Regions from separate parts of the Homo sapiens genome. Here region 2 is linked to region 1. A link means that fine-mapping ties the variant in region 1 to the expression of a gene that starts in the linked region. Tissue or cell type: thyroid. Region 1 holds a variant in brackets; the other region holds the start of a gene. All regions are shown on one strand. Distances are from middle to middle.

Region 1 (2,686 bases):
TGTAGATCTTCCTCTATGGGTCATTTTCTAGCTATGGACTGGAACAAAGTCAGAGTGAGACCTGACATTTGGCATGCTTCCCTCCTAGAGCGGACAGTTAAAGGAGCCAAGGTTGTGATCCTGACACCCAGAATTCAAAGGCCTGAACTAGCACATCCCTTCGTTCCACCAACCAAGCACACTCACTATCAATGCTCCACTACCTAGCCAGTGTTATTCCAGAGAAGCGCCCAGCCTCCTATCACTGCTGCTTCTTATTTGTCCTCTTTGTTTCCTCAAGGGTACAGAGTAGGAAGCAATTTTCATCAAAATCTATTCCTGTCTCCTTTCTTGGGTCTCTGGCTTCTTCCTCTTCTCTCTGCATCCTCCCCAAACATCCCTACAATAATTCTGTCTCAGTTTGCTGTGGTAATTTGATCTCGGAGGCCTTAATCTCTCAAGTGCACAAATTGTGGACCTGGCCTGTGTCCTCACCCATTACTTGTTTCTGAAAATAAATGGCTTATAAGTGGAATCAAGTTGTAAGTTGTCATGAAAAGTGATCTTTCCTCCCCTTATCTCCTCCCAGCCCTCCAAGTCGCTGCCATCTCTGCACGCAGCTCAGAGACCTGGCCACTGGGTATTGACCAGGCATAGACCTGTGACTGTGAAAAAATCATAGGCACTTAAGGAAGAGATTACAGTGGCAGAGGCTTGGTAATTTTTTAATGGAAGCCCCCAAATGTCATGTCTTGGGAGAAAAACCAGGACTCTCCTTTCAGCACTCTTGTCATCTTCCAGCAAGGACACCTGCCAGGTTGTCCATTATGCTGTTTTAGGCCTTGTAGGTATTTAGCTCCAGCTAGAATTTACTGCCTTAATTATTAAGGAGTCAAATATAAAGCCAACACAATCAGCCTCATTTTGAAAGACATTGTACTAAAGAGATGGTATACTCTATTTGGCACTATAATGATTTCGTTCCTCACACCATTATACTGAGGCTCCTGCCAACCTTACTAGTTGTTAGAATGTGATTGCTCAGACTGTTGTTAATTACCCTTTCTACAAATATTAACACTAATGCCTTGACCACACCATTATGCATTCCTTTCCTTGGACCTTCAAGAGCTC[T/C]CTATTAAAAAGTAGAACACAGTAATTAGGAATATAGACTTTGGAGTCAGTCACACTCCTGCCAGTGACTAACTGTTTGGCTATGGACATGTTACTTAGCCTAAGCTTCACTTTACTCATTTTAATTAAGGAAAACAATAGTAAGCAAAACTCATACGGTTATTATTATGATTACATGAGAAAATGTATGTAAAGCAATTTGCACAGTGACTAGTTAAGTACATTATTGTTGTTGTTGCTGTCGTCATGAAATACAACAATTTATTATCATCAGATAAAACCTTAGTTGGCAGTCTATATGTAGCATGGCCCTTTAGATATCAAACACGGATAAACACATTTAACTATGCCATATAGGAAATCAACCATGATAGGGAAGATGCGTATGCAACAAAGTTAAGCTTTCCCAATTACGTCTAGAACTATATCCTACATTTTGAGAACAAAACCAGAAAACAGCCCCTTTTTATATCATGAAGTAAATGGGACTTCTGTTATGAGAACCCCTTCAAGAGATTTGTTTCCTCACAAGAGATTTACCTTTTTAGAAAACACAGAAATACTTTAGCAACAGAGTATGAAGTTAGTTCCTAAACATGCTGTAATCTACAGCATCCAGTAGGGAGCTTGGCACAGAGGTGCTCAATTAATGTTCTTTGAAAAGAACTAAATTTACAAATTTATCTGTGTAATTCTAATACAAACAGCTTCTTATTTTCTCTCCTCCTTATAAAATCTTACATACATTTCAAAGTCCAGATGAAAACCTACCTAATCCATCAAACAGTGTCTACTCTAAACACGAGGTTTTTTTTTTCATTTTCACAGTCTACAGCATATCTGTAAGATGGCATGTGTCATTTTTAAATTCATCCAAATAATTTAATATTATCTCTTTAATTATAAGCAACCTGAAAGCAGGAGCCATGTCTTATATTTCTGTCTCCTTCACAATGTAGAAACCCTTATAGACTCTCAATAAATGTTAATTGCTTCATTTTCTTCAGATCTTATTTTTAGTAAACTCAAGCTGCTACAGAAAAATTTCCTATATAGGGATAGAGCATATCTTATGGAGAGGAGGTTGAGAAGTATCTGTCAAATAGGGAAGGAGCTAGTTTTCATTTTTTAATTCATGTATTTATGTTGCTCTACAAACCGAGCACAAGTTATATAATAAAAAAGAGACAAATGGTCATCTCTGATGTTTAGAGTTGTCCAAAGTAGTTTTTAAAAATTCCATCTTGTTAAAAACGAATAGGATTCCTGATCTTCATGCATCCCCAGAAGGAAAATACTTTCCAATATGATTATAGCATTATTTACAGATAAAACATCCAGTGGATGGGAAGATGAAAAAGTTTTCACATAACTTGATGGCTAAATTTTTTCACATCTCCCTTCCTCCAGAAGAAATATATCAGTCAAATATTTGGCATTAACAATTGGCTTTTAGGGGGAGATCCTCTACATTTTTAGTTCTAAAAAACTAATATATTATTGATAGTTGGCTGAGGTGTCTGAAAATTGCTTAGAATAAACAAAGAGATTCAAGCCATAAGAGATTCAAGCC
Region 2 (2,686 bases), 38 kb after region 1:
ACAGGCGCGTTGTCATTTGTGTCCACCACAATGATGGTGACTTGTGCGTCTCCTGAGCGGGCAGGTAGCCCGCCGTCCCGAGCTGTAAGCACCAGCAGGTGGGTGGCGCGCTGTTCGCGATCCAGTGCTTTCTCCAACACCAACTCCGGGTATTCGCTGCCGTCAACCCGCGATCCCATGTCCAGGCGAAAGTGCTGACTGGGGCTTAGGCTGTAGCTTAGTATCCCATTGCTTCCCTCGTCGTCATCTTGGGCATTCGGGAGAGTAAAGCGGGCTCCGGGCGTCAGGAACTCGGGGATGTGCAGCTGCACGTCGCCGGCAGGAAAGAGAGGTGAGTTGTCATTGGTGTCCAGGACGTGAATCCGAATCTTGTGCAGCTCCAGCGGGTCCTCGAGCACCAGGTCGTAGGTCAAGACGCAGGCAGCTTTGGCCCTGCACAGCTGTTCGCGGTCCGCCGGCTCTCTGACCACCAAATTGCCGCTGGGTAGATCCACCCCGAAGTAGAGCTCGCGGTGGCTGGAAAGGAAGCGAAAGTTCCGCGAGGACATAGCGGCCGCTGGCAGCCTCAAGTCCGCGGAGAGATTGCCTACGGCTACGCCCCGCTCCGTCTCCTCCGGCACTGAGTACTCGAGCTGTCCCGCTGCAGCGCCGCAGGAAACCCACAAACATAAAACTGCCACCCCACAGCCCACCATCCTCCCTCTAGGCGTCCACGTTCCACCAACACGCTACACCAACGGTGACCCAGGACCATGCTCCGGACTCCTGGAGAGCACGAGCCGCGGGGAAGAGCACGCTCCTGCCGGCCGTCACTGCTGCGGGCTGGATACTCAGCGACCGCCGACGTTGCGCCTCCCGAACGCCGGCATTGCCGGGGCTGGCCAGCTGGGAGCCGGGCTTGCTAGGCTGGAGGCTGGGCAGCCGTCTGGGAAAGCGGAGCCGGCCGGGTGTTGAGGAGCGCAGCGCCGCCTAGGGGTGCAGAGACGAGGCCGCCCGCCCGGGCGCGAGAGGTGCTGTCTCCAGTAGCAGCGGGCTGGGGTCTCGACCACCACGCTGGCTGCGGGCGCAGGGCGGAGCCTGGGAGACGCCCCGAGACACTAACACTTCTCTCCTTAAACGGTGTTTTCTAGGACAACGCCCTGAGGCTGCCCAGATCTTAACCTCCACATCCTCTGCCCGCAGATTGCTGATAACTGTGGCTGAGCCCAGCTGGGCTCTTCCTGCCGCCCTTTGGGAGCCGCGCGTCGGGTCCCGGCGCTCTGACCCCGGCGCACCTCTCCGGCGGAGAGGGCGGGACTCAGCGTGGAGCTGCCGAGCGGAGGCGGCGAGAGGCGGGACGGTGAACGTGAGCGACCACACCTTCTAGGCTTAAGGAAACAGGAGCCCCCCGAAAGAAGTGCTGCGGGGGGCTTTCCGCGCTGGATCCTGCTGCAGAGCTTTCCGCGCTGGATCCTGCTGCGGGTTGAAGTCTGTCCTGCACCCTCTTGTATCCCAGGAGCTGCCAAGAGGGCAATAGAGACGACAAGGAGGGGAAGAAGGTTGGGGAATAGTGTCCGCATCAAACTGCCTCCGGACTCTGGCTTTTCGAGGCAGCGGAGCCAGCGAGCTCAAGGCTTTTTTTTTGCGTGATAGCAGTTTCTCCTTCTCCAAGAGGCTCTACTTGGGAGTGCTTTGCAAACGGCCCTTGACGATCTGGGTGAAAGAGGAGGTTATAAACCAGTCAATAGCAATAACTAGAAACTCAAAGACTTGACGACCCGTCCCCAAAGAAGACGTGAGAAGTGGAGGGGAAAGTACTGAGATACTCATTAGAGTTTGACCAGGAAACTACTCTGTAAATTTTCTTTCTGTAAATATTTAGAAAACACCATGAGGCAGGATAAGAATAGGCTAGATACCCACCCTCGCTTTATTATTATTATTATTATTATTATTATTATTATTATACTTTAAGTTCTAGGGTACATGTGCACAACGTGCAGGTTTGTTACATATGTATACATGCGCCATGTTGGTGTGCTGCACCCATTAACTTGTCATTTACATTAGGTATTTCTCCTCGCTTTTAATTTGGTCTTTTGCGTGGATATTGGGACAGTGATCAGTTCTATGAGAAACATCTCTGAGCCACAACAGATACACCCAAATTCTGCCTAACACCCTACAACCAGTTCCTTTCCCTAAGAAGGAGGCGAGCCAAAAGGAGACTCATTGACTATTGACTATGAAGCACTAAATTCCTCACTCAAATCCTTCTTTTAATACAGGTGCAATATGTCCAAAGCCCCAATAATGAAACATTTGAAAGGCAAAATCTGAACACAGATCAAGAATTAAAGTTTCCAGGACATATTTTCTGGTAGAAACCTGCCTAAAAGTATCGATAATTATTGAAGCTGGGTGATGGTACATTGGGGTCAATTACACAATTCTCTCAACTTTTGTGTATGTTTGAAATTTTTTTTCCTTCCTTCCTTCCCTCCTTCCTTCCTTCCTTCCTTCCTTTCCAGATGAGCGTGTTGCTTTGTTGCCCAGTCTGGTCTCAAACTTCTGGGCTCAAGCGATCCTCCCATCTTATCTCAGCCTCCTAAAGTGCTAGGATTACAGACATGAGCCACTGCACTCACCTTGCATTTTTTTTTTAACTTTTTATTTTATTTTATTTTATTTTATTTTATTTTATTTT

Direction of the effects. Alleles are on the strand shown, and positions count from the first base shown. SD is a standard deviation of normalised expression in the study named.
With allele T in place of C in region 1, the expression in thyroid of the gene that starts at base 1,289 in region 2 is lower (small effect, 0.19 SD a copy in GTEx).

Evidence for each region. PIP is the estimated chance that this variant, and not a neighbour inherited with it, causes the effect.
Region 2: PCDHAC1 starts here. The variant in region 1 is the best candidate, but not a certain one, in a credible set for the expression of PCDHAC1 in thyroid (GTEx, PIP 0.62).

Annotation. Positions count from the first base shown.
Region 1 is chr5:140,962,441-140,965,126 of GRCh38, reverse strand. The region is part of intron 1 of PCDHA1 (protocadherin alpha 1); the gene reads right to left. The region is part of intron 1 of PCDHA2 (protocadherin alpha 2); the gene reads right to left. The region is part of intron 1 of PCDHA3 (protocadherin alpha 3); the gene reads right to left. The region is part of intron 1 of PCDHA4 (protocadherin alpha 4); the gene reads right to left. It also overlaps PCDHA5, PCDHA6, PCDHA7, PCDHA8, PCDHA9 and PCDHA10, and 5 more genes. Among named protein-coding and RNA genes, the nearest start is that of PCDHAC2, 2.7 kb to the left of the region's middle. The variant T/C (reference allele first, on the strand shown) is at 1,114.
Region 2 is chr5:140,924,902-140,927,587 of GRCh38, reverse strand. PCDHAC1 (protocadherin alpha subfamily C, 1) reads right to left here and starts at 1,289. Exons shown (of 4, transcript NM_018898.5): 1 at 1-1,289. The coding sequence starts at 695. The region is part of intron 1 of PCDHA1 (protocadherin alpha 1); the gene reads right to left. The region is part of intron 1 of PCDHA2 (protocadherin alpha 2); the gene reads right to left. The region is part of intron 1 of PCDHA3 (protocadherin alpha 3); the gene reads right to left. It also overlaps PCDHA4, PCDHA5, PCDHA6, PCDHA7, PCDHA8 and PCDHA9, and 5 more genes. RefSeq lists an enhancer at 149-706.